Homo sapiens: one gene and its partners. The protein of the gene in region 4 purifies or fractionates together with the protein of the main gene of each other region. This does not show direct contact. Each region holds a gene or a part of one and is shown on either strand. Other genes may lie near its edges.

Evidence for each region.
Region 1: the proteins of SHC4 (region 4) and GAREM1 purify together in Homo sapiens (affinity purification with mass spectrometry; 2 studies listed by BioGRID and IntAct, with this or other methods). This does not show direct contact.
Region 2: the proteins of SHC4 (region 4) and AMD1 purify together in Homo sapiens (affinity purification with mass spectrometry; 2 studies listed by BioGRID and IntAct, with this or other methods). This does not show direct contact.
Region 3: the proteins of SHC4 (region 4) and NBEA purify together in Homo sapiens (affinity purification with mass spectrometry; 2 studies listed by BioGRID and IntAct, with this or other methods). This does not show direct contact.

Annotation. Positions count from the first base shown.
Region 1 is NC_000018.10:32,467,229-32,475,319, forward strand, and holds the start of GAREM1 (GRB2-associated and regulator of MAPK protein 1), read right to left. Parts: upstream 3,655-8,091; 5' UTR 3,201-3,654; coding exon 3,080-3,200; intron 1-3,079.
Region 2 is NC_000006.12:110,870,637-110,878,308, forward strand, and holds the start of AMD1 (S-adenosylmethionine decarboxylase proenzyme), read left to right. Parts: upstream 1-4,148; 5' UTR 4,149-4,469; coding exon 4,470-4,579; intron 4,580-7,672.
Region 3 is NC_000013.11:34,937,559-34,945,736, reverse strand, and holds the start of NBEA (neurobeachin), read right to left. Parts: upstream 3,468-8,178; 5' UTR 2,917-3,467; coding exon 2,623-2,916; intron 1-2,622. UniProt on the Homo sapiens protein: Binds to type II regulatory subunits of protein kinase A and anchors/targets them to the membrane. May anchor the kinase to cytoskeletal and/or organelle-associated proteins.
Region 4 is NC_000015.10:48,883,269-48,891,067, forward strand, and holds part of SHC4 (SHC-transforming protein 4), read right to left. Parts: intron 7,544-7,799; coding exon 7,480-7,543; intron 1,100-7,479; coding exon 980-1,099; intron 1-979. UniProt on the Homo sapiens protein: Activates both Ras-dependent and Ras-independent migratory pathways in melanomas. Contributes to the early phases of agrin-induced tyrosine phosphorylation of CHRNB1.

The DNA of each region.
Region 1 (8,091 bases), on a different chromosome or scaffold from region 4:
GAAAGTTGTATGTATGATGGATGAGGCCAGCACTTAATTTGGTGTCTACACTGTTTTTAAAATATTGACTTTCCAGTCCTCAAGCTCTCAGAGAGACAGTGAACCTATTTAGAGCAGATGTCAGAACAACTTCAACCCTTCTCTCCTTTAGTACCAGGAGGTAGCCCAGTTTGAGATAAGAGGTCAGTCTTCAGAGTCAGAAGGTTGGCTGGAAATTCCACTCCACCATTTACTAGGTACGAGTCTTCAGGCAAGTCAATTTTTCTGAATCTTAGGTTCCTGAAGTTCTTAAAAATTGTGTTGCTGAGGATTTGAGACAATACATATTATGCATCTAGAAATGTACCAGCCCATAGTAGGCTTCTGATAATCAATAGTTGTGAAATTAGATTTTTTAATGTTCTTTAAAAATTATTTAAAATTAGCCAATCATTTCCTCTTGGCATAATGTCAACTAGTGGCATGTTTTTCAATTTTGTTCTAGTCTCTTTAAAAACAAGTGATTTGAAAAATGACTATCTTTCATGTCTAAGTATAGGGTGGGCGTGTGCAGATGTAAAATGTACCTGCAGTACTAAAACTGGGGAAAAGGCAAACACAGGATGAGGACAACACAAAACTTAAGATTTCACCTATAACATTTATAAATATACCAGCATGTCCTCAACCTGTCCTAAACTGTGTGAAACATGTTTAAAAACATGCAAAGAATCTATGATTGACTCTTTTAAAGTCTACCCAAATTAAACTGCTATAACAACACTTTCCCCAATCAAATTAGAAGAGAATTTTTTGGTAAATACTTAATATTTTCAGGATGTGGGCAGACTGATACTATCACAATGCTCACGTTGGTGTAAACGAGGATTTCCTTTAGTCTCTAAAGCAATTTGACAATGTGTATCAAGGATTTTAATAGGACTGACATGCTTGTTCAGCAAAGTAGAAATACATTCTAACCAAAAAACTCCCAGATGTATGTACAACAGTATTCATTACATCACAATTTTTAATAGCACAAAATAATACAGCTTAATAATGTCCACAATAGGGGATGAAATTACTTGGCATAGCTTAGCCCATGGACTCTTTGGCAGCTATTAAAAATCATGTTGACAAAAATATTTAAATGAGATGGGATTGTTAAGTGAAAGAAGCAAGGTATAAAGCAGTATCTGGCAATGATTCCAAATTTGTATGTGCCACTATGATTCTCAAGCGGCAATAAGGAAATAAGAGAAATTTACAATGAAGAATTGGAATTACATATAGTGATCAAAATCCATTCCACAGCTTGAAAGGACACAGTGTTAAGACTTGCTACCCACGTCCTCATTTTAGAAAGAAGTGTGGGATGAGTACACTGCTGATTCAGATCCTTTTTATGAATGGCAGGGATAGAAAAGTGGGAAATAAAACTGAAAGTCATGTCGGAAAGTGAGATATTCCACCCCTTTAAACTTTCAGTTTAATGAAGCTTTTGAGTGGCTTTTACACCACATGCAGCAATGCTCTCTGCCTAGCTAGCAAATGTGGCAGTGTGCAGAGATGAGAGAAGGTAGGAAAAGGTAAGGACTCACAATCTGCCAATATACACAATTTTGGAGGAGGAAATGAAACGCTGTGAATACAAACACACACACCAGTTCAGGTCTGCAGATGCTATTTAAAGCACACAACATTTTCCCACCCCCACTCGAAGCAGAAACGCCTCAACACACCACCTGTGCGTCCCCCCCCCCCGCCCCCACCCCACCGCTTCAACAGCTACTGTGATCTGCACTTCATTACTAGTTTTAAAACTTCCAGCTTATTCCCAATGCACCCTACTACTACCAACAATCAAACGAGGATAGCAAGCAAGCCAAGATTGTTTTCCAGCCTTCACGAACTTTCCTGCATCTATTTTTCACATCAGATATACAAATGTCTAATCAAACCCCACAGATAAGAAACAGAATAAAAACTCCTTTGTGTATGTATACATCTCACGTTACCCACTCTTCTACCCCAGGAAACAAGGAGTAACCCTAGTGCCTGTGACTCGAAATGACATCTTTCTGCTTAGTGTTCTTCTGACCTGGCCTGTGTAGTCACAGCTCTGCCTGCCTGCCAGCCTGGGCCCGTGTACTTCCACAGCTGCCCCACAGCAGGGCAGGCTTCTTTCTGCAAACAGTCTAAAATCGCATGACGCCAAAGCCCACTGAAGTTATGATGAAAACAAGAGAAGACCAAACACACCTAAATTGCCACCTTACGTGTCATCACTCTCCAACTGAAAGGTGTCTACTTGCTTGACAGTATGCGCAACTATGTGTTTGCAGCTGTCACACCGCAGAATAAACAGTTGGAGGAAGGAGTTGGGTGGGTTTCTGGTGGTCAGTTTCAGGAAATACACCCTTCTTAGTTCTGAGCTCAGGTTCCGAATCAATACGTTTTGGAGACTTATTTTTTTTTCCAGACTGGAAATGCGCTAAACCTAATAGTTAACCTTAAGCATGCCATCACTTCTGCTGAAAACATTTTCTACACACAGCCCCAAATTACTTTCAGTTGGGTTAAACAAAACAGACAAGCTGTAATACAAGGTCTCTGAGAAATGTGATCCTTTTCAATGGTCACCCAGGAGCTTTTCCTTTAAATCTGTTTGGCGGGGGATGGGGGAGATAGGGAGGAGAGCACCCAAATTAAGATGCCACCCGGAGCACAATGATATTCTCAAGAAAGTTGCCTAAGATAACTCTTCAGGGTTTCCCTGGTTGAGTAATTCTTGCAGGAGGGTGGGGAGGGATATCTGGCGTCCAAGATTACGATCTGCAGAGGTCTCCCTATGTTGACTTTTTTTTTAGGGCGTCCTTTTTAATTATACTGCAAGGACTCTGATTTCCACCTCCTTGTCTGCTGCTGGGGGGAGTTGAGAGCAACGCGCCAGGGCTGCGGCAGCCGCTCGGGCCAACTCCGGCGCTCAGGGGCGGGCAGCCCACTCCCCGCGGGTCCCACCCTCTCCAGCACACGCGCGCACACCCGCGTGGAGACGGCTGTCCTCGCCCGTCTGCCCCGCGCCCCAGCTGGGACTCACCGTTGTCCAGGCGCGCGATCTGGGGCAGCCGGTAAGTGCTGACCAGGAGGTCGAGCGGCACGGCCACCGAGCTCCACTTCACATCCTTGAGGCTGCAGCCCAGCGAGGGCGCCGGGTCCATCTTCCCCGAAGCCTCCTGTCCCGCGCTCCCCCGCCGCCGCCACCGGCACCACCCGCGCCTCGGCGGCCGCCGCTGCTCGCGCTCGCGGTCTGGGGCGCGCGGGAGGCGCCGGGCAGCTCCGGCCGCGGGCAGCCGGGGGGGCGCGGCGACTGGGGCGGCCCGGAGGGAGGGGGCCGGCGCCCGGCTCAGCTGCCGCTGCGGGGCATGGCTGGGGCGCCCCGCGTGCCCTCACGCCCGGAGAAGACTCAGAGCAGCCGCGCGGCTGCGGGCGGCGGCGGCGGCCCGGGTGGCTGCGGCGGCTCCCGCTCCGCCTCCTCCTCTGGCCCTGGGTCTGCAGCTGCGGCGGCCGCCCGCTCGCCTCCTCCTCCTCTTACCCCTCCTTCCCTCCGCCTCGAGCGTGTGAGGAGGAGCCGCGGGTCTGAGAAACGCCATAGCAGCGCTCCCAGCACTGACTAATCAACAAGGTGCGAGCAACGCCTGCGCAGCTCTGGGAGACACCGCCTCCGCCTCCCAGGCGCCGCCCGCTCCGCCCCCAGCTCGGCCTCCGCCTCCCGCAGCTCCCGCGGCCCGGCAGGCTCGCGTCAGCTCCCCGGCCGGGGCCGCCAGCGCCCGCGGCTCGGCGCGCTCCGCAAGCTTTAGCTCTCGCTCCCCCGTCCGACCACTCGGGCGCCCTGCAGTCTCGCCGGGTGCTGCTGCGCGCCCCGGCTCCTTCCCCGCCCAGGCCCGTCCCCGGAGCCCGGGAATTGCCGAGCGAGCTCAGGTATCGCTCCCTGAGTCGTGGTGTCGGGCACCGTCCGCCTCCACTCCCATCCTGGCAATGCGGTGGCTAAATACAAGGCACAAAAGATACCTTTAGTGGCGCTCCCTCTTGCTTCCCGGTGACCCAGACTTTGGTCAGAAGAGTACCACAGCCCAACGGGGCTGCGGACGGCAGGCGTGGAGCACGCCTTGGCGTTTCCCCTCAACCCTACTCCTCTACCATCGGAGCTGGAAATGACTCCCAACAGTCTCAGCTTTGGCTACTAGATAAGATAAAAAGGGCAAAGCACCGAAAAGCGGAAAGGTGGTGGGTGATGAGTACCCACATACAGGAAGGTGGCCATTCGGTCTAGGACCTTCACTGAGTGAACGAGCTGCTGGAGGCGACGGGAGTTGATGAGGCCACCAAACACCGTAGACACGGAGATGGGAAGGGAAAACTAGGTTACTGGGAGGCTGCTGGGGTCAGCTGTTCTCACCCGCTTTTCCCATTCAGTTCTCTTCTCATCTTAAAGGTTGGGATCATTCTCGTTTTCTAGGTATATGTACCAAGACATTAGGTAGTTTGGCAAGATTTTATAACTCGTAGATGGCCGTGCTGGGATTCAAACCTACAGTTTGCTTTGCATGATCAATCATTCTCTGTCTCTCCCGATGTTTGACACGGCCTGCTCACTGTGGACAGAGCTCAGAATATAAAGGTGGCATGTCCTGCCTTGTATGCTAATCTGCTTTCTTTCTTTCTGTCTTTCTTTCTCTTTCTTTCGCTTGCTTAACATTTTGTTAAAATAGCAGAGGTGAGTGGTTGCTAAGGTTGCGTATCTGCTCTGTTTTCAACACGTATTCAATGTTCAGTGCTTGATAAGGTACAGCAAGTACCCGCTTCGCCAGCCCAAGGGGACTTGAAAACATCCCGCTGCCTTTTCGTGGCCTGGCTTAAAAGGTCTGTGCTAATAAACCACTCCATTAACATTTGAAGAAAAACACAGATTCTTCTACACCCACCTTCCTGATCCTCTCACTTTGAAGCATTAGCGATAATTTTCACAAAATTCATCTGAAAGTTTTGACCTTTGGGTCATTCACATTGATTTTTTGAAAAAGTCTTGGAAAAAAGTGGGAAGTATTTTACTATAGAGTGTATGCAGAATCAGAAGTCCATAAAGTTCTAAGAATTGCTCACATAGAGTGTTTCGGCCGGGCGCGGTGGCTCACGCCTGTAATCCCAGCACTTTGGGAGGCCGAGGCGGGCGGATCACCTGAGGTCAGGAGTTTGAGACCAGCTTGGCCAACGTGGTGAAACCCCGTCTCCCGTCTCTACTAAAAATACAGAAAGTTAGCCGGGCGTGGGGGCAGGTGCCTGTAATCCCAGCTACTCAGGAGGCTGAGGCAGGAGAATCGCTTGAACCCGGGAGGCGGAGGTTGCAGTGAGCCGAGATCGTGCCATTGCACGCTGGCCTGGGCAACAAGAGCGAAACTCTGTCTGAAAAAAAAAAGTTTCAAAACTTTAAAGATTTAAGTGCCAGCTAATTTCTTTTTCTGAATAATTAATCACTTCTGGAAATAAAGCTCAGAATCCAAAAATGACATAGGAAACATCTAAGATTGGGCAGGGTCAAGGGTCTTTCAACCTGTAAGTAGATCCTAAACCCTTATATGGTAGGCTGATTTTTAAAAAAATGACTTTGTTACTTTTATATTCTCTTTAAAAGCTTCAGAGAATAAGAGAAGTAGTTTCCTCTCACAAAAGGACTGGTGACTTTTGACCTAAAGACAAGATAAAAAGTAAAAAGATTAATGTAATCAACTTTTTAAAAATCAATAAAGGACTTACATTAGATCTGTTATTGCTGACCTTGCAGAAAAGGTTTTATTTCAATCTTGAGTATTAAAAGGAAGAAATTTTAGTGAGCTGCAAATTCTTAGTAAGTTTCATGTCCTGGAAGAACTCTTACAGAAGGATTTTATTTGTGAGATGGAGAGTTTTGGTTAAACTGCCGAAAACAAAAACAAAAAGCAGTTGAGAGGGGTAATCTTTCAGTCTGGCTGAACTGTACTTCCAAACATGTTTCTTAAGGTTGTTGGAACAATGCAAACTGTGTATACAAAAGCATTACAACTTGGTGCAGGGGCAAAGCTTACAGGACTTTGAAGTTTATGAAAAGGAACATCCAAGAAAAGTTTTCTTTAAGGCAACAATTGATGCACTGGTCCCTTGTTCCTACTAAGTACCTTTACAAACTGAGATTTGTGAATTAAAATATCAGCTCCAGAGCCAGATGGCTTGGATTTGATTAGTGGCTCTGCTTCTATTTAATGTCATGGGAAACTTGCTGTTTCCTCCTCTGAAAAATGAAGATAATAATAGTACTCATCTCATAGGGTTGATATGAGAATTTAATCATTTAATATACATTTAGCATTTAGAATAGTGCCAGATGCATAGGAAGTGCTATGGAAGTATTAACATTTGCTATTATTATTAAAAACCATTGGCTTTAAAGGGCAAAATTTATAGAAAAGATGAAGAGATAAATGCTGACGATTTGAATAGATTTGAAAAATAAGAAATGATTAGATTTGGGAAAATAGTTATATCAGGCAAGGAGTAGAAGAACACTTTTTAAATGACAAACCTAGCTGGGGGACTTCATTGCAAATCTAGAGTCTGTGGGGTTAATTTATTCCACAGTGAACCCGCCTCCTACCCAGCAGACCCAGGCAGTGATCATGAAGACTCTGTATATGCTATTGATAAGCCCAAAGGTGAATCAGGTAAATGACACTACAGGACTCAAGTGACAGACACTTGCCAGCTTCCTAACTGTGAGTCTACTGTTTATACATGCATAACTTGTTAATTCTCTGCATTATCAGCTTTGCAAGATAAAAATATTACATATTGGTTTTCCTCATATCAGAGTGTCCTGGCTCACATAATATTCTAGCAGTCAAGTGCAATATCAAAGTTCACAGCCCTAGTGATTTTTTAGGTCTCCCCATTCTTTCCCCTTTCACTTAATTGCCATGTGATCCCCAGAGCTAACTTGAAAGACAGTCCCTAGCTAATGCTTTTTGCAGTATCTATATCGTCATTGTCTATGAAATTAAGTGTAGAGCCCTTGGCATGGCGTAGAAGGTTCTTCCCTTATGTGGCTGGGTCTGCCTCCCTAACCTCACTCCTGTTTGGCTACCTTCTAATACCCTATGATCTGGGGTAGCACCTGCTTGTAGTTGCCCAAATGTATCATGGTAATGCATACCCTTGTAGAGCTTGTTCTCTCAGCTTAGAATGCCTTTCTCCTTTTCTCTTACTGTGAAAACTTCATTCCAGCTCCAGCTTCCTGCATTCCATGAGCTGCTGTATCTCCTCCTCCAAGGAGATTCCTTTTTCTGTGTTACCATTGCACCTGCAATACCCTCTTTTGACTGTACTAGTTGCACTCTGATTAATTATCTTCCTATATTAGCTTTGCCTACTAGACAACAATTGACTGTGGACACAAAGAGTTTTTTTTTTTTTTTACCTCTGTTTTACCAGCTCCTATTACCATGCCTGGCACACAGCAAGTGCTCAATTAATGTTTGTTGAATTGAGTAATCAATGCACTGAGTCAACTTCTCACTCTATATTATTTTGTAGGTCACTGCAACTCCTTTTTTTCCCCAAGCCAAATGGTATACAGCTTTAAAATTTTATTTACTTTATTTTTTCATTTCATTTTTTATTTTATTTATTTATTTTTTTGAGACAGGGTCTCTCTCTGTGGCCTAGGCTGGATGCAGTGGCACTATCATGGCTCACTGCAGCCGCCAACTCCTGGGCTCAAGTGATCTTCTTGCCTCAACCTCCCAAGTAGCTAGGACTACACTCATATGCCACCATGCCTGGCTAATCTTTTTTATTTTTTGTAGAAACCAGGTCTTGCTATGTTGCCCAGGCAGGTCTTGAATTCCTGGGCTCAAGCAGTCTACCCACCTAGACCTCTCAAAGTGCTGGGAGCTACCACGCTTGACCTTGTATCCAGCTTTATTAAGATACTTTTCAGCCGGGCCCAGTGGCTCACGCCTGTAATCCCAACACTTAGGGAGGCCGAGGCGGACGGATCACGAGGTCAGGAGATCGAGACTA
Region 2 (7,672 bases), on a different chromosome or scaffold from region 4:
TAACAAAACAAAAACAACAAAAAAAGTTTCCATATCTTGTTTTTATAAGGAAAGTGGTTTTTGTTCCTTTCTTTTTTTCCTCTTCTTCCAGGCTAGACTGTGGACAGATTAAGCCAGCTTCAATAATGAGAATAAAGACTTTACTCTATGGTCAAAATGGGTTAGAAGGAACCTGGTTCCCTGAATGATCTCATGGAACAGAGCTGCCTACTCACCCTAGACTACCTGTCTACCTCTGTACTGTTATGTGAGAGAGAAATAAACCTTAATCTTTGAGTTATTGTATTTGGGGATCTCTTTGCTATAGTAGCTTAGTGACTTCTCAGAAGAGGCAACATTTAAGCTAAGATCTAAATGACAAGAATGAATAAGCCATACCAAGAGGGAGAGAAAGAGCATTTCAGATAAATGAAAATGACCTAAAGGGAGACAGGTCAGTACGGATGGAGTACAGAAAGTGAATGGTAGAGATGAGGTTGGAGGATAATTAATTCAGGACCAAATCAAATAAGGGTTTGAAGGCCAGGGTAAGAAATTTTGATTTCAATTGTAATGGGAAACCCCTGGAGAATTTTAATAAGTGTCATAATTGGGCTTATTTTTTAAAAACATCATTCCATCTTGGGCTATGGAGACATTTAAAAAATTAAAACAAAAAAAATCACTCTAGCTGCTCTGTGTTAAACCAAGTGAGGTGGCAAAGTGAAGACAAACACTACTATAGTTAGAAAGCTACTGCAATAGTTCAGGGGAGCTAATTTTGTGCTCTGAACTAGGGTGGTGGTAGAAATGAAGACAGAGAGAACAAATTCTTGAAATGTTTTAGAAATATCAACAAGGCTAATGATGAGTTGGATGTAGGACAATGCAGGAAAGAGTGGAATCATTGATGATTTTGAGTTTAAGCAACTGCTGTATAACGAGGTGATTTGTTGTGTAAAGGGTGGACCATAAAGAGGTAAGAAGAGATAAGAGTGGAGACAAAGAGGTCAGTGGAAAGCTTGAGTTGAAGACAGCTGAGTTTTTGTAATTTGTTTTGCTTTTGTGGGGAGGAGGCAGATTTTGCTGTGAAAAGTAACAGCTCTTTTCTAATAATGTTAGCTTCTATATGCTTGTTAGGCATTCAAGTAGTCAGGCAAGTGTCTCAAAGGTTTGAAATTCAAGGGAGATGTCTGGGTTGGAGATATAAATTTGAAAGTCATTAATACTATGGGCAGGTCATAAAGCCATGGACTGGATGAGGTAGGTCACCTAGGGAGAAAATGTATGTAGAAAAGAGGACACAGGCATAGCCAAGAGCACTGCAGCATTGGGAAGAAAATTTCCAAGGAAAACCAAAAAAGAGAGATGTCACGAAAGCCTGGAGACTTTTTTCTAGAAGGAAGGCATAGTTAATTGTGTCAGAAGCCATTGAAAGATTGAGTAAATGGGGATTGAGACCATTCACTGGTCTCAATGGCTTTGGCAACCACTGGCTTTGGCAAAAAGTGGGCCTTGAGAATTGCCATTTCAGTCAAGTGCTAGGAATAAATACCCATTTGGAGAATTTGAAGGAGAGATGAGGAGGTAGGGACCACACATATAGACATGTCTTTACATCTTTTAGGGAGTTTTGCTGTTAAGGGAAGCAGAGAAATTCGGTGATAACTGAAGGTAGAAGTGGGGTCAAGTAAGGATTTTTTTAAAATTTGAGTAAGATCTTAATAGGAATGATTACTAAAGAGAATAAAGGGAAGATGTACAATCAGAGGTATCTTAAGAAGGCCTAGTGAATGGGAGTCCTTTAAGTGTTTTATGTGCAAAGTGCTATAGCCAATGAGGCATTTTTAAAAAACTGGAAATCTGGGGGAAAGATGGTCACTCTTGATAGAAATGGGGCTGAGAAGGGAAATCATTTTAGAAATAATGGTAAATGTATTTTGGACATATTGAGTTCAGGAAAATATTTAAGCAAAGATTAACCAACTTAGTACAAGGGATTTTTATTTTTATTATTTCTATGATCTGAAGAGAAACCAGAGTATACAAGGAATTTTGAGCTTCAAGATAACAAGAAAAATGATATATTTTACAAAGGACCAATCCAGTTGGTAGACTATTTAAATTATCCTATATCAAATTAATAAGGATTTACTTTGCCAAGATTCTTGGCACTTTTATATTAACTTAAATTGCACTGGGAAAAAAGCATAATAGTAGTTGAGAAGCAACTAATTATAAGCAATTATAAGCCAAATTATGTTTATACCACAATTAGTGTTTGAGGTGGTTTAGTAGGCAGATTCTTCAGTAAGAACCATCAAATAATTGAACAGCTTGTAAAACACAGAAATACTTCTTTTATCTTTATTCCAAGTAGAGTAACCACATTCTTTTATCATTATAAAATAAGCAACATTTATTATCTTTTGTCCCAATCCGCAGTTTGAGTTGGATGCTTATAAAACATGGCAAGAGGGCTGGGTGCGGTGGCCTCCCAGCACTTTGGGAGGCCGAAGTGGGCAGATCACCTGAGGTCAGGAGTTCAAGACAAGCCTGGCAAACATGGTGAAACCTCGTCTCTACTAAAATACAAAAATTGGCCGGGTGTGTTGGCATGCACCTGTAATCCCAGCTACTCGGGAGGCTAAGGCAGGAGAATCGCTTGAACCCAGGAGGCAGAGGTTGCAGTGAGCCGAGATCACGCCACTGAACTCCAGCCTGGGCAACAGAGCGAGACTCCGTCTCAGACAAACAAAACAAAGCAAGAGTAGTTTATGTACCTAGCTCACAACATAGCTTCTTTCAACAGGTTTCACGGAGACACGTGAACCACGTTCTTGTAAGACAAGAGCTATTCTACAGGGTATCTAGAGTGCAAACCCAAACCATGTCTTTTTCAGTGGATTTTTCATGTTGACATCATCTTATTTCACTTTGGGGAAAGTTTTTTTCTAAGGATGATAGCGAAAAGTCCTTTTGTCTTGTGACAATAGCAATTTTTATGTCAGCTTGGGTTTTTTTCCTCCCATATTCCCAAGTAAAAGTAATAACTTTGTTACCAGTTTTGCCATCTGAGGTTAAACTGTTTGACCATGGCTTGACGACTATTTTATACTTAACACTTATAAAATATTAGACTGATAGTTATTTAAGTTACCACCAGTGATAGCTCTGGAATCCCTGTTTTATTAATTTCCAGGTAAATCCTTCTTAAGCACATGGGAAGATAGCACTGTAAATTTTGGGGGGTAAGGAGAACCTCCATCAATTAATACATCAGCTTGATAAAATTCAAAGAAAAACATGATCAAATAAGTTCAGATTATATTTAACACATTCAGTTTCTAGAAGTAGTTTTGCTGAATAAATTCCCACCAGTTGAGCTAATGGAGCAACGGAGCTGCCAGTGCTTCCCGGAGGCTGCTGTGCTCAGCCAATTCGGAGGCATGGCGAGCCACACGGTGGGAGGTGGGTAAAGCCGGGGCCCTCCAAGGCTGGGCGCCACGTTGCTTTTCTCTTCTGAAATAGGAAGACAATGCTTCTGGCTATTGTATAAACCAGCCGAGGACTGCTTTCATTCGCACATCAGCCAAGGCGTGAGCAGAATTAAAGCGCCTTCTAATTCGACCCCTGGCAACGTGCGCGTCACGGACAAATGTTTAGTTTTAACGCCTGGCTGCGTTCGCCTTGGGAAAACACACTTTTAAGAATGGCCAAGTACCTCAGCAGTCGCGGTGAACTGCACAAGATCAAAACCACCACGCCAACCCAGCGCTGGCCACCGTCCCCGCTGAACCCCGCCAACACCCCTAAGGACCCACCCATGTTTTCTGCTAATCATTTTTTTTTTCTAAACAGCTCTGCACAGCCTTTCCTCATTCCGTTCCCGCTCTCCCCACCCACTCTGCGTTCGATCCGAGGTTTCTAGTCCCCAGCTGGACATCACAGCACCAACTCCCACTCAGGAGCCGGCCAGAGCCCGAGCCGCAGCGCAGTGGGCAGCTCCCCGCGCTCTCCGCCAGGCCCTCGGCCAGCCAGCCGCCACTCGGCCGCGAGTGATTGACAGGCGGCAGCAGCTATAGGCCGTGGAGGTGGGACGATGCGTCACTTCCTGGTCTTTTGGGGGGAGCCGGGATATATAAGGGCGGTGCTCACGCAGCGCTCTCGCTTACACAGTATGGCCGGCGACATTAGCTAGCGCTCGCTCTACTCTCTCTAACGGGAAAGCAGCGGAATACAAGAGACTGAACTGTATCTGCCTCTATTTCCAAAAGACTCACGTTCAACTTTCGCTCACACAAAGCCGGGAAAATTTTATTAGTCCTTTTTTTAAAAAAAGTTAATATAAAATTATAGCAAAAAAAAAAAGGAACCTGAACTTTAGTAACACAGCTGGAACAATCCGCAGCGGCGGCGGCAGCGGCGGGAGAAGAGGTTTAATTTAGTTGATTTTCTGTGGTTGTTGGTTGTTCGCTAGTCTCACGGTGATGGAAGCTGCACATTTTTTCGAAGGGACCGAGAAGCTGCTGGAGGTTTGGTTCTCCCGGCAGCAGCCCGACGCAAACCAAGGATCTGGGGATCTTCGCACTATCCCAAGGTGGGTCCCCGGGGCGCTCGCTGACATCCGGGCCTGGGGGCTGTCGCCGCCGCCGAGGCACCAGCCACGGGTGGAGCCCGAGTTCCCTCAGCTTTCAGTTGGGGGCAAGTCTGCGGCCTGGGGTCGCTTCGGCGGCCTTGGAAGGTGCGCGGTTTGGGGGAGAGCGGCCATGTCCACGCGGGCCGGAGCCGGCTTCTCCCGCCGTGGTTGCCGCGCCTGGCATTGCCCTGGGGGAGGGGAGGAGGCCGGCGCGGCCGCGTGCTCAGGTAACGTCCCGCGCTGGGCGGCGGGCGGCGCGGCCCGGGGTGGTTTTGCGGCCCGCGCCTCCCGACATTTCCCTCCGTAGTAGTTGGCGGCAGGGGCCCCAGGTGGGGGTCGGGGGCGCCTGCGCGGGTTGCCTCCGGCAGGTGTGGCTCGGCGGGCTTAGTCAGGCGCTAATTCGGGCGTGCCGGCTTCGGGGAATGGAGGGCGGGAGCGGCGCTTGTTCTTGCCTCGGGCGCGGATAGGAGGGGCCCTCCCGGCCTTGTCTGAGGGGCTGGCGAAGAGGCCTCCCACCCGCGGCGGCCGCGGGCAGCATGTGGCGTTCGGGCGGCGGGGATTGGGCGGGAGCAGTTATGTCGCAGTGGCGGGGCCCCACCGCTCCCCTAACATGCTCTGCGCCAGAGCCTTTTCGGGGCGGCTGGGCAGACGGCGCAGTCCCCGGGGCCGCCCTCGACACGGCCGCTGAGGCCGCTGGGGGCTGCTCCCCAATCTCTTGACCTTGGGTTGTGTAACCTGCTACGGAGCCGGCGGAGCGGGGCGGGAGAGGTGCGGGTGGAGGGAGGCCCGCCTGCCCCAGGACATAATGCCTCTAATGCCTTAAGCTTGAGCAAAGGAATCTGGGGCCCACTCCCACTGCGGGCCGTCACGCGAGAGATACTTGGGCTGACCGCGCCGAAGAGGCGTTTTAGTTGGTATTGCTGTGGAAATCCATGCTTATATAAAAGCCCAGAGATCCCGTGGATGCTTAGGCCTTGTTCCTGGCGGCGGTCGCACCGGTGGCCACCAATGGCCTTCCTAGGCCCTGCCACCGGATCCCTGGCTCCTCTGCGCACGAGTGCGGCTAGGGTGGCGGTGCAGCGGAGTAACTGGCGTGGCCAGCTTCATTGAGAGGCGGCGACCAATGGGCTCCTGGGCCGCACTCAGAGCCTGGCCCCAGGGTGTGGACCAATGGGCGTTTTAGGAGTGTTAGCTGTTCTTGGAGCTGTCCCTTGACAAAAAGCAACTGGAAAAGGGAATCCAGGCAGACACGTGCTACCGAGACTTTAAGGCACGACGGGAAACCCGGTTTCTAGCAGTGTATCTTGAACGATTCCATTGTAGAAAAAAATACTAGTCATAGCTAAAATGTCACACGTCTCATTTTTTTCAAGCTTCGTGTGACACTTAAAATGTCTATAGCGCTTACTACGTGCCAGGCTCACGTGAGATTATAGGAAGCGGACTTTGGTCATGGAGAAGCTTAGTATTTCCTTCATTTCACAGATGAGAAAGATGGTATTTGTGATAGACGTTTGGTAAAACGATTGTGATCAGGATAATTAACCTAGAAAATCTTGGCAAGAACCTAGAAAATCTTGGGTAAGAACAGTCCTAGAAAACGAATAACAGAAGTTGTCACTTTGGCTTTTTAAATGTTTGAGCCCTTAAATAATAGTAAGTACATGTTCTTAATAAAGGGAAGAAGATTTTGTTCTCCCCAAGTTCTTGGCGGTTTGGCTGTTTAGAGCTTCCTGAGTCAAAGTGGAGAGAGGAGGAAGAGGCTTTTTACAAAGCAGCCTGCTTTCTTTAAATGTTTAAGAACCCTTTTTACTTTGTACTTTAATCAGCCCAAATTGTTTTACTGCTCCAGTGTGGCTTTTAAAATCATGGCCAAAGTTAAACTTTGAAGGACAAAATATTCCCTTGTGTAGATGATTTAGTGCCATCCATTTTGTGGACATGTAACATTCATTGAACAACTATTGGTAGTACACTGCCACATTGTAACTGTTGTAGATAAAGCAAGTTAAGCAAGAACTGAAAAATATGTTGATTTAACTAAGGTCCCGTGATAACCTTCGTTGGAACATTTTTCAGTGACCACTCAAGTGGTTAGGTTATTTACCAGGATGTTTAAAAAAGCCTGAAATAGTAGGTGTTCCTTGAATCACCTAAAATCAACAGCCTAGCAAAGAGAGTATCATGGACGGAGTCCGGTCGGTGGGGACATGGGGCCAGCCCCAGAGACCCCAGGGAAGGATAATCGGTCATCTAGAAGAATAAAGCGTGACATGTTTTACTCAAATGACGTGATTAAGTGCATAGCCTCTGGAATAACAAGATTTGAATTCAAACAGCATTTAATAGCTGTGTGAGCTGTTTCCTCATCTGTAAAATGGAGACAATAATGGTACATAGCTCATGGAAGTTGTGAAGAATAAATAAGTTAATATGTTATATGTAGTACGTAAACTGTTATCTTTAACACTTTAAAGACAGGATCCCTCTATAGCCCAGGCTGGAGTGCAGTGGCAGGATCATGGCTCACTGCAGCCTTGACCTCCTGGGCTCTATTAAGATGTGAATAAACTAAAAGTAGGTTAAAAGATGAACAGATGGAATTAAACAAATCTGTTTATAAAGCATAATAAACATAGGGACATAAAAACGATTAAGAGAATGAAAGGCTTAAATGTCCAAAGAGAGCATTAGTATTGATGCTAAAGACAAGGATAACAAGATAAGGATATGAGGGAGAAAAAAATCCTGGAAAAATAGCTTTCCAAAACTAATGCAAGAAGAAATGGAGAACCCAAAACAGTCCTAGAACACCTAAATAACTTGAATCAGTCAATCATCTAGGCCCAGATGATTTCACTGGAGTGTTCTGTATAATTCAAGGGAGAAAATATCCAACTTTTTTCACGCATTCTTCTGGGAAACAACATACTTCCCTCGGTTTTCTCATCCCAAAGTCTGAAATATTTTTTTCTCCTACACGATATTTACCTTTCATATTTAGATCTGCAATCCATCTGGAATTGATTTTGTGTGTGGTGTGAGGGAATACAC
Region 3 (8,178 bases), on a different chromosome or scaffold from region 4:
ACAAAGGCGACTGAGACAAAGGTATTGTTTAAGGTAGAAACTCCTCTTTTTTTTGAAGTTTCATTAGTTCTCCTTTCTTTTCTGTCATTCAGGGCACAGTAATAGGTATTTCACTATTTCACCTTACATTTTTATTTAATGTGTTAAACTAAAACTGAAAATTTTAAAAAATCATTTTAGATTTAATATTAAAGGTTTCCAAACTCTAACGAGTCACTGAGTGTCCTATATGAATTTTATTGGTTTACTTACTAAATAAATAGAATTAAGTTTGATAATCAGTTTTTTAAATGCCCATGACTTCCACATATTTTTGAGAATCCACTTAAATTTTCATATGACATTTTCATGAGTGTATTGGACAATAAAGCCCTAAATCTACAGTTCAAGAAAATTACACTTCAAATGACTAATTTATACTCCACAATTAATATAATTAACAACTTAGTAATAAACAGCTCCTTTTGTCATTTATTCTTTTCTCCAAAAGTTTCTATTTAAAAATCTATTGCATTCTTTAAATACATACAAAGAAATTTTAAACCTAACTCTTTAAATTCCAAATATCATTGCAGTTACAAAATCTTAGGTAGATTTGGGGATATACTATCTCAGTATTACTTTATTTCTAGTGACTCTAAGCTTAATGGTAAAGTTCTCTAAAATAACGTCTGCATACTGAAACTTCATGTCAGATTTTCATTGCTCTGAAGAGTTAAATTTCTTTTTTATCTCAAGAGAAACATTTCACTTCCTTTCTTAGTCTACCGTATATCTAAAAAACCCCATCTGTTAAGAACTGATTCAGCACACATTGCTACTGCTGCAGAGTCCAAACTGGTTATACATTCAAATCAGTTTCCAGGTTGTGAAAGCTCTACTGCCTCTTACCAGGTTAAAATGTATTAAGTAAGCATAGGAATACTTACTAAAATAGCCTAATATAATCTAACTTAAAAATGATATTGGTTAGATCAAAACTGCAACTAAAAATGTGTTCCTTTAAATTACAGAAATACAGTTACCTGCTAACATACTAACAGTTTGAGATTTATCTTCTTTTAAAAAGAAATGGCAAGTACTGACCTCTTATTTGCAGCTAGTTAAAATTAAAACTCAAGAAAACTGTATTTCTAGTAGTGTTCTGAAAAGAACTTGGTTATATCAACTTAGTGACATTCCCTCAAACTTACACTGACTTTTCATGATGATTTATTTGAAAGGTACAAAAAAGTAAAAAGAGGTGTTTTGTTTTAAACAGCAATGAATATAACAAAGACAGATAATCTCCTTTGACCTGACACACTAGCAAAAGGAAAAAAACAGCTTCAACTTTTCTGTGCATTTACGAGGTTCATAAACCGTAGACATTATCTAATGCATGTCTCAGGACACCACTGATGTAGCTGCAGCTTTCTCTCAGTTTTCCAATAGAGTAAGTAAAAATAATTGCTTAGCTGAAAAATGACTGCATGGGTGTTACAAAGTACCCCTGTAAGCATATTGTTATATTCCTGTGACCCCACACCAAATACAATACTCAACTGATTGCTCTCGATTTATGTCTTGCCTCCCAAAGCCCAACCTTACAGTATGTCAAAGACTAGATCTATTGCAGAGAAAACTGTTTAAAAAGCTTGGCTGCATTTAAAAACAAAACAAAACAAAACAAAACCTCCATTTACAAAGCACTAAATATGAACTACTGTTAATTATCCTCAATGTATGATTCTCCTCTCCTTCTTTCCATTTCTTTCCCTGACATCTTAAACGCTTCTGAGCCTCTCTGTAGATAGCGCAAAACATTAAGTCATACACACTTCTGCAGTAACTCTTTCTTACCATGAAAGGAACCAAAACCTAGGGCTGCGTTTAAAACCTTTCCTTTAGTCTTTACCCACATGCCACACTACTGAAAGTAACCACAGAAATCAACCTGTGTGATTTGGTGTCCTCACACACCTTGTGTGCACAAAAAATGACTAAGAGATCAGTATATTCAGGGCAATATTACAAAGAAGGGACGGCTGCTTCTGAGATGGAGGGGGATGGATACAGACACAACACTCTCCATCATGGCCTTGGAATATTTAAAGACAGATGCAAAACTGCATCATTTTCTGTCTCCTTCGAAAACATCACACCCCAGCTGCTCAAGTTGGAAGCTAATGCGCTTCTCACATTTCAGCAGCACGGGGGAATTTAGGCTCCAGGGGCAAGGCTGTCATCCTCGGAGAGCGACACCAAGGACAATTAAGTGTGAGAAAAAGAACCCCAGAGAACAGGAGGCCTCCTCACCTCCTAACTAAACTCTAAAGTCGACCCAAAACCTTCACCGCGGGTACTGGGTTACTCGCGGTCCTAAAAAGTGAGAAGAAGCGGTGTTAAGTTGGGCACTGCGCTCAGGTGGCAGGAGAGGACCAGAAAGAGGAGAGGAGGGAGGTGGCGTGGCTCTAGCAGCGCGCAGGCAGGTCACCCGCTGGGCAATACCGGCTGAACGCTCTGCGCTCCCAGGGACGCGCGGCGCGTGTGACCCTGGGGGTGAAGGGTGGGAGGGAAAGGCGCTGGGGACGGTGTATGTGGGGACTGGGGAAGCAGATTGAGAGCACGCCTTTTCCTTACCAGGTTGAGCACCGTCTCCACGATGTCCCTGTTGCTGACCTCTCCGACCTGTATGAGTCCAATCAACACTGCGAATTTCATCCGGATGTTGCGGATCGGCACCGAAGGGTTAATCATCCCCGCGGGGAGCATCACCGAGCCGGAGCCGGACGCCCCCCTTAGCTCCCCCATCCCGCTGCCCCCGGTGCCGCCACCACCGCTGCCCCCGCCGCCTCCGCCAGCGGCCCCGACGGCAATGAGCCCCACGGGCTGAGGCTCGAGCCCCGGGCCCGGGCCCGGCTTCTCGCTAGCCATTGGCCCCCCTCCTGAGGAGAAGGGAAGAGCAGCGGCGCTGCCGCCGCCGGTACCGTTATACCTGCCTCGGCCCCCGCCCCCCGGCCGTCGCCTCGGAGCCCCAGCATCCACCAGCGCCGCGGCGCCGGGCCCGCTCCCCGCCTGCGCCTCAGCCCGGCCCGCTCCGGCGCTCTCCCCCGCGGAGGCGGCGGGGGATCCGCAGGCTTATTCTCGGCGGTGGCGGTACCGCTAACCGCTGCCGGGCAAGCGGCTGTGCCCGCCCAGCAGGTGTGCCGCTGCCGCTGCCGCTGCCGCCGCCGCTGCCTCTGCTCTCTCCCTCTCCCGGTCTGTCCGGCCCGGCCCGCCCCCCGCGGAGATGCTGCAGCCGCTCCGAGAAGCCCGAGGACGCGAGCAGCTGGCCACGACGCTGGCCGGTGCTGAAGCTCAGGCTGTGGCCGATGCTATTGACGCTGCTGCCGCCGCTGCTACGGCCACCACTGTTGTTGTGAAGCCCCGACGCCGCCGCTCACTCCGCCATGTTGCCGCCCCCTGCCTGCGGTAGCAGCCACTGCGCCTGCGCACAGCCTCCGGGGGGGCGGAGCCCTCGGTGCACCCCCTCTTTTGCCCTGCCCTCCTTCTCTTCCCACCCACCCACCCCGACACCCCTCGTCCCTCCCCCAACCACCCCGAACGGATAGACAGGTGAGCAGGTGCATGGGGACTGCTGCCAGACACTGGGGCAAGCTGGCAGAGGCGGGGCGGGTAGTGGCTTCCTTGTGGTTTTTCCCTTGAGGGCGGATTCTCCCTTTGGGGAAGGACACAGTGTGCATGTCTTGCCTTCGCTGCCACCTCCTCCTTCTCTCAATATCCTCTTGCTGGGAGGAGGTTCCTCATCTCAGTTGTTGCATCCAGCTGCTGCTACTGCCAGTGCCACGTGCCTTGTAAGGTAGGGGAGTGGCAGACGACCTCTTTCTGCCCCTCCTCGCCCTTCCTCGCAGTCCTGTCCGCCTGCCCTCCCTAGAATTTCCCAAAGAAAAAGTGGCTGGCAAAGCAGAAACAAACGCGCGGGGGGGCGGGGGGGCGATCCTGCATTGTCGGGGGAAGAATACAGACGGAGTGTAATGGTGCTTTTTCTACAGCCATGAAAGAGGCTGACACCTGCACACTCAGGCACGACTTAAAATAGAACTTGTCAAACAGTGATCCTCTCTGGATCAAGCTCGGAACAACAAACAGCTCTTGAACTCGCCTCCCAGCCTAAAAAGACTGCAGTGTGTGACACTGTGGGGTAGTTTGGTGGGAACGACAAATCCCACACTTTCAAAATCCTGACAATCCTCAGGTATGATGCCAATTATTAATGTTTCCTTTTTTCACAGGCACGTACAATTCAGAGGACTTTCGAAATTATCTAAAAACATGGGTGATTCTCACTGCCAGCCTTGTCTGTGAGAAAAGTACATATCTATGTCTGCACAGATACGAGACAAAAAATAAACCTTTAATTTTTAAAAATTAAAATGTACACAGTAATCTTGCTGTTAGTATTGAATTAAAACTAAATAGGCATGACTGTTCCTTGAAAGGAATGATATAATTTTCTTTAATATTTCATGAGGTCTTCCCTTTTCAATAAAGATTATTGCAAGTCACCAGAAATATTAGGTATCTTGAGGTATATTCAGATCGTTTTAATTGTCCTCTCAAATGAAAAAGGTCAATATACAAATCCACCATAATCAGTTTTGTTATTATTCATATTTAATTGGACCTGCCAGTCAAGTTAACTCCCAGGATATGGGAACACGGTAAAATTCTAAGTACCACAGGTTATAAAAAAGTTCCTCAAAACCAGTACTTAGGATGAATTCTTGGTTGCATGTCTGTTTGTTTAAACTTGCACCAAAGTGATTGAATTGTTAAAGTAGTTAAGCAAACACTTCTGAAAGCAGTGGTAACTAGCATGTCCATTTAAATTAAATGGCAATTGAATTATAAAATGCTAGAATGCTTGAAACTGTACGGGAAATTTACAAAACATACAAGTCATAATAGTATGACTTGAGATATACTATATAATTGAAAAATCCTGTAACGTTTATATCCTTCTACTACATTTTTGTCTGTCCCAAGTGAGTATCATCTGCTTTTAAGAGTACTGTTTCATTTGCAAATTTAAAATGATATCTTTGTAAAATACATAAATCTAGACTGAAAGGTTGTCACACTAAGTTTTTTTACCCACTGTGCATATATCTATATGGCAGCAGGTTCTACCTTTTGCTATTTTTAGACTTCTTGCATGAGTACTTTGAGAGACAGTGACAACCTGAACTTTCTATTTCCTTTCTGAATGAATAGCTTAACATCATTTTTAACATTTCCATTTTGATTTTTCTTGTATTTTTTCTTAAGTAGTATGTATATGCAGTTGGTTGTATTTTTCTGCTCATTTTTCTTAGTGAAGATAGTGAGTGGGTAAAGATAATATCACCATTTCTAAGTAGGAAAACTCCACTTCTTTTGCCTACTTAATTCAATTTCAGAGATATTTAAAAGAGCTTACCAATTAAAAATCTTTCTCCAGTAGACAATCAGCTCCTCGCAGGCGCTATGATACTGTGGAAAGTGCATGATTCTTTGAGTCATAGTTACAACTTACTACCTTTGCAGTCTACTCAAGCTATTTGAGTTTCAGTCTCCTGGTTCCTTAAGTAGGAATGATAATATGTGTTTCATAGGGAAGTAAGAATTCCATAAAATAATTTCAGCTGAGCAGCTAGCATATAGTCAATGTGTCTTTGTGTCCTTAGTATACAGGCATGTGTGTTGCATGACCTATAAACACATGTAATACCAATTATAACCACATACAAGTCTGCATAATTGCACAGTTATATGTCTTCCATACCATCCCAAAAGCATAAAGTTCAGAAAAGTCAACAGGTCTATTTCTTTTTGGCCTACAAAACCTTTTCCCGGAAAATGTGCAAATAACTTTACATTTACATTAACAATATTTTGAAAGAAAAGCTACATAATAATAGAAGATACCCAATATGTATATTTTTAAATCTCCAGATTAAAAAATATATTTTATGTGGTGAATATTAATTTTGTATGCATTTTTGCATACCCATACTTCCTAAGGACAATCATTCAAAGATAAGAAACCTGTGAATCTGAGTTTCAGGAAGCAATATTGCAGAGAGGTTGAGAAGTCATGCCCCAGATTCAATGGAAGCTGGATTTAGATTCTAGTTCCACCACCACTTATATGTGTGATGTTGGGAAAATGACTTTAGCTTCAAAGCTTCAGTTTACTCAACCCAAAGTAAGGATGATAATACTACTTTATAGGATTAAAGGAGCTAATACATTTAACGTACTTAATGTAGTAGTAAGTGGCAATCAATAATGTTTCCCTTCATTGGCTGCCGGAAAATACCCACAGTTATTTTGTGTCATTATTTTTGGGTTTTTTTTTTTTTTGCACCTACCTTGCCTGACATAATTTACATTGAATAAATATGTTCAAAAATGAATGGATGGAAACAGCCGTTCTCCACACTATTCCCGTTTCCTTCACCTGTTCTTTAAAGAACACATTTCTTGCTTTCCTCTAAACTTTATCTGAACAGAATACTCCAAATTCAATGTGGGTTTAGACCTGTATAAAACAGAGGGAAATTCTTACCTCACCCTCAACCTTTAGCAATATAGCTCCTGTTAATGTTGCCCCAAATCAAATTAGATCTGTTTGGTTTGTTTTGGTTTTGGATTTTTTTCTTAACATGACACTAATGATTCGTGTAATGTAGTAATGATTCACATTTGGCACGTAGTAGGTTCTCAAATAATTTTGGTTCCATTCTCCTCTCATATTGAAATTATTATCACCATTAAATTAGTTACAGATCTGCCCATTCTTCCTGGTAATAGGTCTCGCATTCATCCCACTTTTTTCATCCTCACTGCAGCCACCCTGATTCAGATCCCAGTCACTTCATACCTGGTCTCCTCTTTTCCACACTCACTCTTCTCCAGTCCATCCTTACATGGGTAATCTTCGTAAAGGTCCATCTTGATGGACAGATTAGACCATCAGGATTAATTAGGATTAATAAAGAGTTTTACTTTATTAATCACAATAGCTTCTGCATGAAATAATTATCGACCTGAAAAACTAAGGCGTTTTCTTTTGTTATTACTGTTTTTTTAGCAGCAGCATATCTACAATTTGTAGCTTTACATGTAGATTTTGAGATATAAGTACAAAATTGAACATATCAATTTAAATTTAAATTTTATTTTAAGGCCAGGCATGGTGGTCCATGCTTGTAATCCCAACACTTCGGGAGGCCAAGGCAGGTGGGTCACTTGAGGTCAGGTGTTGAAGATCAGCCTGGAAAACACGGTGAAACCCCATCTCTACTAAAAATACAAAAACTAGCCAGGTGTGGTGGTGGCCACCTGTAATTCCAGCTACTCAGGAGGCTGAGGCAGGAGGATCAGTTGAACCCGGGAAGCAGAAGTTGCAGTGAGCAGAGATCATGCCACTGCACTCTAGCCTGGGCAAGAAACCAAGACTCTGTTTCAAAACAAAAAAAAAAGATTATTTAATACAAATTTTCTATTTAATTATCCATTAAATTTCATCTGCTAGGAATTTCTTAATCCTGATTATATCATGCAAATAATTTATTGTCTTATTAGTCTATGTGTAAATTTGGGAGCATTCCTTCTATACCTCCATTCAAATGTTGATTGAACAGGATGAAAACAGCTCAGCAGTCACCAGTATCACTCTGCTTGAATCAATTCACGTTTTTCAAACTGTGGGTCCCATCCTAATAGGGAGTCATGAAATTGATTTAGTGGGTTGCAACCAACAGGGTTTTTTTTAAATGAAATGAATAGAAACACACATAATGAGAAATTTCAAAATCTATTTTGTAAGGGTAAGTACCATTTTATAAGATCTGCTTTAATTACACACACGTACATAAAAATACATATGTATGTTTACTAGGTAATGATGTAATATGTATTTCTTACTGCAAATTGTAGTCAAAAAGTTTGAAAACTGATTTAAGTTGTTTATAAGCACCTGTTTAGCATACTCCTTCAATAATAAATTAGCTACCATAGTGTGCTGATAACTAGCACACATATTCCTCTGGCTTTACCAAAGGATACCGTAAGGGACCTTGACAACTGTCTAGCTGCAGTCTGGATACTCTCTGTTTCTGTATCTGAGCAAAATTAAATGAAAATATATTG
Region 4 (7,799 bases):
AGACACTTAAAATCCATCCTCTCAGAAACCTTATAAATAAGTACCATAATCCTCATTTCACTGATGAGGAAAACTGAAGCCCAGAGTAGTAGAGTCATTTGCTAGTAAGTGGCAAAGCCAGCATTTCAACCCATATGTAACCTCAGACTTTTAGCATGTTATTATTGCCAAGTACATATTAAACCTTGATCAACAGCACTCCATACAGTAAAACCTTAAGTGTAAAGAAACTTGGATCACAACATATTAGACAAAGAGGAAAATCAGATCCTAACACACATACATAACCTGATAGAAGGAATTTAGTTTAAAAAATTAAAAGCAAGCCAAACAAAATGTCCTGGTTTAGGTACACATTTAGCCCAATGCCTACGTATCTTCTACATTTGCTTCAGCAATGCTGTTCTTTGAGAAATGAGGTTCACAATGAAAACTCAGGCACACCACAGTACCATAAATTATTAAGGAAGAAAACATTACCTTTTATACAATAACATTTTAGAAAGCTTCTCAACCACAAGAATTGGAAGAAAATATTTTCTGCTTAAATTTCAGTTCGCTAGAACATTAACCCCAACATCACCTTTCCCCTTTGTCCCTCATCTGTACCCTGGCCCAACACACAGTCTGTTAGTTGTGATAACGGAATTGCTATCCATTTGGGGAGGGTTGGTGGAGACATCAATGACCAATTCAAGGATATGAGTTGCTAAATGATATTTTCTATGTTCTTTGCAACTTAGTTCTTCATTCAAAGCCAGTTAGGTAGGGACACCTATGTAGGTGGTTACATGCTCCAGTGATGGGTTAGTAATGCTGTTGTTCTAATGATTGTTATGCATAAATCTTCAGCAGATTTTTCCCTTGTGCTGTATTAGGTTGTAGGCATACTCTGTCTAAAACTTTATTCTTTTCATTATCCCCACGCTTCTCTGAAAAAATAGATATGTTTATCTATAAATGACATTTGTGATCTTACCTGTTGGTTGTCAAGATTCATCAATGTGAGACTGCATGTTGAGATGGTCAGTTTTATATTCATTCCTGAAAACTGAAGATTACTTTTGCCAAGGACTGTTGATAGGAACTTAACTGGAGGCTTTAAAAATTAAAGAAGAAAAACAAAACACTGTTAGGAATTTTGTTACAGAATAAATGTTAATGTTTTTTAAATGTTAAAAATGAGTCAAAGTCCAAACTCTTCCTCTCTATTTTACTTTATGTAAATCAAATGAAAGGGAATGGTTTTTATTAAATAAACTTTTTTTTAAATTAGGATGCAGCGAATTCTTTATTAAGTAGTGAAATTTAGGCCCTCAGAACTTTCTCATAGTTTCTCTCCTCCCCAGGTGCTGGGAGTGGGCTCCTGCTTTAATGTAAACAAATTCCTGTGAGAGTTTAGACCAGCTGAACTCTTGAGTCCTTTTCAATACTACAAATCTAAAAAAAGAAAAATTTGACAATCCACTGAATCTAATGCCACAGAAGGCATTGATGAACTCTCCAATTACGTAACTGCTTCCTTCTCTGAGGCCATCCCTGTTCCTCCCTCATCTTTCCCTTCCCAGAGTTAAAAAGTCCTCTCTACTAGTCTAATTGTTACCTTCAGATAATCATGATGCCTGAAATTCTACCACTGGGCACCCTTTTAGGTTAAACCATTGTTTTCAGAAGGTCCCAATTGTTAAACTGAACAAATATTACTAGGAAGGGGTTAGCCCATTCCACATTAACTCATTAATAAAGATGATTTACCAGAAATTACTAATAGAGATTTAGAGGCAGATCCTGAGGAAAGGGATATGTTTTGATAAAAGTCAAAATTCTGAACCAGTCATTTCTCAAGGAGAAGAAGTGTGGGGGTGTGGTGAAGAATCATGAGAGCAGGGGGTACCCAGGAATTATAAAGAAAAGCACTGGGGTCATATGTCAGGAAAAAGGTACCAACAGGGGGGCGAGAGGCTGGGCTGGCAGATTTCCTCAGGCAGAAATGCCACTTACCAACTGATGACCTTAGACAAATAAACTTTCTAAGCCTCAAATTCCTTTTATATAAAATGTGGGGGGAAAAACAGTAGCCACCTCATAAGGGCTGTTGTGAAGATTAAATAATAACTAGAGAACATTTAGCATAGTATTTGGCTGGTTACATGAGAGCTGTTATTATTATTATTACTTATTTTTGCCCTTCCTAACATTAAAAATTCTAAGAAATCATTTGAGAGATTTGAATGCTTTGATGGATGCTTGGATTAAGTCCTGAAATCCTCTACTGGAAAGTGGACCAGATGATGGAAATCAGTAATTCCTCAGCATATGAATCAATACTTTAAGGCAATCAATGAAAACACAATTTGTTTCTTTCCTAGTTTTGCTTTTATATTACTCTCATTTGATTCATTCTGGAGCCATACCAAACTGTTAAACACACACTGTTGAAATTTAATGTACAGTTTTATTTTTAATTCCAAGCACATTCTAAAATGTAGTGCAAACAGTGTGAGGAAGGAGCCCTCAACCTCACAGCTATCACCACATCATAAAGCTGACTCTTGGTCTACTTTCTTTGCTTCTTACACAGCTCTGGGCAAAGCGAGCCACACAGTTCAGGGATTTTGTGTTCCCACAGTGATTTTATTTAACAGCAAGCTGCTCATTTGCTTCTCTAGAGTTTCTTTTCCATGCTAGTTTAAAAAATATTATTGTGAGGCTGGGTGCGGTGGCTCACGCCTGTAATCCCAGCACTCTGGGAGGCCGAGGTGAGCAGATCATGAAGTCAGGAGTTCGAGACCAGCGTGACCAACATGGTGAAACCCCGTCTCTACTAAAAACACAAAAATTAGCCAGGCGTGGTGGCGCATGCCTGTAATCCCAGCTACTGAGGAGGCTGAGGTAGGAGAATCGCTTGAACCTGGGAGGCGGAGGTCACAGTGAGCCAAGATTGGGCCACTGTACTCCAGCCTGGGCGACAGAGCAAGACTGTCTCAAAATATATATATATATATTATTATGAAATACAAATTAAATTATAACACTGTCTCACAGTCGAAAAGCATTTTGTTATCTGTAAAGAACTTTTACGTAAATCATCTTAATTTTGTTCTCACCATAACCTTAATCTCGTGAGAAATGTCCAAAATGTATTTATTATATAGGAGACAAAGTCTTTCATGCCATCATTAGAAATGTCCTAACAGTTAAAAGACCGATGGAAGAAAAAGGAGCGGAAAGCACACAGGATGGGCAGTGAGGCAACTGGAATTCAAGTCCCAGGTTTGATCCTAACTTGTCAAGGGACCTTAGACAACTCCGGAACCCCCTCAATGTTTTTGTTTACCAAACAGGATTAATACTACTATCACTTCCATTCTTCCACCTCTAGCCATGGGAATCTTAGGAGAATCAAATTTAGTATTAATAATAAAGTATATGGAAATGCATAGTATACAGCGAAGTGCTAACAAACTGTAGTGGTTATAATTACTACTTTTAAAATGAATTTTGGCAATTTTGCTGTAGGATTTCTCCTTCGAGAAAGAGAAACTGCAGACCCTGGCCTTGGGAGAGGTCATTATGGGAATGAGAGGAGAAGGGAACAGAAAGAGAAGGCTGAGGATGGGATACTGACCAAATTTTACTAAAGAGTGGAGGCAGGCCTGGCAGAGGTGCTTATCCACATTTTACAAACGAGAAAAGTATTAAGATAGGGAAACATTAATTGACTATATCTGGGTCAATTTATTTGTACTGACATAGCAGCCTAGCTCTTCTACTCTATGTCGCATAGTCTCTCAGGAACCCCCAGTTCTTTTGGTTATTCATTAACTTTTAGACTTCAAAACTCATGGGAGATCACATAAATGAATAAATCATTTTTCCATTAGCACTCCAAACTGCTAATGATGCAGTATCTAACAGATCTAAAGAAATCAAACAAAGATCTGACTATATTCAACTGGTCCTAAATCGTTTTTGGCTCCCTCCCCCCAGGGCAGATGCTTGGCAAGGAAGCAGATAACATTGTGATTAAGTGTGTAAATGCTGGAGCCTGCCTGGGCTTGACCTAGCTCCTCCATACACTGACTGGGCCACTAAGCAAGTTACTTAACCTCTCAGGGCCCCAGTTTCCTCATCTGTAAAATGGGGATAAATAATAACACTAGTGGCTAGGTTTTTTGTGATGATTAACAAAGTATAAAAACCACCGCATACCAAAACTTATGGGATGCAGTGAAAACAGTGAGTGCTAGGAGGAAAAATCATAGATATAAACACTTTTATTTAAAAAGCAGAAAGGTCTTAAGTCAAAAACCTAACATTGTAACTTAAGGAACTAGAAAAAAACAAAAGCCAAAGCTAGCAGAAGGAAGGAAATCATAAAGATTAGAACACAGATAAAATAAATAGAAAATAGAAAAATAGATAAAATTAATTAAACCAAAAGTTGGTTCTCCCAAAAGATCGACAAAACTGACAAACCTTTAGCTAGATGAACTAAGGCAAAAAAGAGAAAAGACTCAAATTACTAAAATCAGAAATGAAAGTGAAGACATTACTACCAATTCTATAGAAATAAAAAGGATTGTAAGAGACTACTGTGAACAATTGTATGCCAACAAATTGGAGAATCTAGATGAAATGGACAAATTCCTAGAATACCTATCAAGATGAAATCATAAAGAAACTGAAAATGTGAATAGGCTTGGTGAGAATATGGAGAAATTAGAACCCTTGTGCATTATTGGTGGGAATGTAAAATGATACAGCTGCTGTAGAAAACAGTATGGCAGTTCCTAAAAAAATTAAAAAATAGAATAACCACATGATCCAGCCATTCTACTTCTGGGTATATACCCAAAATAATTGAAAGGAAGGTCTCTAAAAGATTTTGTAACTCATGTTCATAGCAGCATTATTCATAATAGCTAAGCTGTGGAAGCAACCCGGTGTCCATCTACAGATGAATAGATAAGCAAAATGGGTATATACATACAATGCAAAATTATTCAGCCATAAAAAGGAAGTAAATTCTGACATCTGCTATGACATGGATGAACCTTGAGGACATTATGCTAAGTGAATTAAGCCAGTCATAAAAGGACCAATACTGTATGATTCCACTCATATGAAGTACCTAGAGTACTCAAAATCATAGAGACAGAAAGTAGAATTTTGGTTGCCAGGGGCCGGGGCGATAGGGGACTGGGGAGTTCTTGTTTAATGTGTAGAGTTTCAGTTTTGCAAGATCAAAAGAGTTCTAAAGATGGATGATGGCGATGGCTGCACAAAAATATGAATGTACTTAATACCACTGAACTGTACACTTAAAAAGGGTTAAGATGAGGCTGGGAGTGGTAGCTCACACCTATGATCCCAGCACTTTGGGAGGCTGAGATGGGCAGATCACTTGAGGCCAGGGAGTTAGAGACCAGCCTGGCCAAAATGGTAAAACCTCATTTCTACTAAAAATACAAAAATCAGCCAGGCATGGTGGCACATGATTGCAATCCCAGATACTCGGGAGGCTGAGGCATTGAGAATCGTTTGAACCCCCAGGAGGCAGAGGTTGCAGTGAGCCACTGCACTCCAGCCTGGGTGACAGAGTGAAACTGTCAAAAAAAAAAAAAAAAAAAAAGTTAAGATGGTAAATTTTATGTTATGGATATTTTACCACAATAAAGTGGAGAGAAAAGAAAAGAAAAAAGCCTAAAGTGCTGGAAAGAGTCCCTGGCTCATACTAAGTACTCAATACATGCCAGCTGTTGAAGGAAACTAGCTGCTTTTCTGTTTTTCTCTGCAAGTGTACTTTCCGGATAGATGATAGCCAGGTTTGCTCTGTTTTATTTTGGGATGGGGAATCCCTGCTCCTTAAATGAGAATATCTTGCCTGGTAGCTGGAATCATCCAGTTGAAGCATCCTAATCAGAAATTATGAGAAGCAGGAAGAGGTTAGAGATTACTTTGGAACCATGGGTTCTGTGAAAGAAACTAGTCAAAGGGAGTCCTTGATGGAATTTAAGAGCCATTTGTCAGAATGTTTCATACCGTGTGGATTCTCTAGGTGACACTGGGTTCAGCCCTATGTAATATAATGAAGAATGATAACCAAAAATGGGGCAGAATGGTATAGAAATAGAGCCCTAAGCTGGGAATCTGAAGACTTGGCTTCTACAGCTGGCTCTGACCTTAATCATCCTAGTGACTCAGGCAAATATCATCTCTTGTCTCAGACTCAGTTTAGTAGCTGGCAAAATGAAAAGGTTAGACCAGAAGATCTCTTAAAAAACCCTTCTCCGCCGGGTGCGGTGGCTCACGCCTGTGGCCCCAGCACTTTGGTAGGCCGAGGCAGGCGGATCATGAGGTCAGGAGATCAAGACCATCCTGGCTAACACAGTGAAACCCCGTCTCTACTAAAAATACAAAAAATTAGCCGGGTGTGGTGGCGGGCTCCTGTGGTCCCAGCTACTCGGGGGGCTGAGGCAGGAGAATGGCTTGAATCCGGGAGGCGGAGCTTGCAGTGAGCCGAGATCGCACCATTGCACTCCAACCTGGGCAACAGAGCGAGACTCCGTCTCAAAAACAAAAAACAAAACAAAAACAAAAAACCCTTCCCTTAAACAGTCTGCAATTCTATATGATTTATATAGTTATCTCAAGAGCTTTTGCATTGGCCCTTTGGACTTTTCAAACCAACAAAATATTCTAGGGCTCATAGCTTAATAGCAATAATACTAGCTACCATTAACACAGAAAGTGTAATAGATGCCAGACGCTGTGGTAGATAGTATGTAGACATCACTTCGTTTATTTCTTACATAACTCTATAAAGTAAGTGCTATTTTCTCCCATTTTACAGATGAGTAAACCAAGGATCCAAGAGGTTAAGTAACTTGTCCAAGAGTACACCATTTGTAGGTGGCTGAGGCAGGACTTTAATCCGAGTCTGTCTAACATCAAAACTTTTGCTTTCTTTCCACAGGGAAAGCTACTGTACCCATGTGCTATTACCTCACCTTTACCACTATCCATATTTATACTAGAAAATAGGCCAGGAAGCCTAAAAAGTCTAAAATGTTATAATGCAGAATACATACATTATAAAATGTGGAAATTGGAAGGCACTAAACTGGCCATTTAGTGCAACTCCCTAACTCCACAGGAAATAAGAACAGAGTCTCAGCAAGATGAGATCCCATGCTCACTGGTCAGTAACAGCCAACTCTGGCACCCTACATTTCTGACATAAAGCCCAGGGCTTTCTCCCCTCTGCAGCTGGAGGTATCACCACGTCGGACAGTGTCAGGCAACTCGGAAAGATTTGAGGGACAAGAGCAGTTTTGAGTGCAGCTCTGATATCACGCCACCTAATAAAGGCCAGGCTGGACCTTGGTCATATGGTGGGATGAACGAACAGCGATTTTCATACTATCTTTGCCATAATTAGGGAAACATAAACAAGAAAACCACATCATCATTTACCTTTCGCTTTTTAATGGCTCCATTTGCCCCGGGGACAGCTTCACACAGGCGACTTATTGCTTCCCTAAAGAACAGAAACCATATAAATAAAGACTTAGCATACTACCTCCACACAGTAAGTGTTTAAGAAATGTTAGAAATTATCACGACCAAAAAGTACACATACATAATAGTGAGTCTAACACAAATGGTATTCTCCCAGCCCCACAGGAGGAAATGCTGTACTTACTCCTTCTGCAGGAAAACCTAGCAGCACCCTAATACTGAGCAATTGCTTTACAACAAGGAGCTCTACTATTCGCTTTTTTCATCTCTGTTTT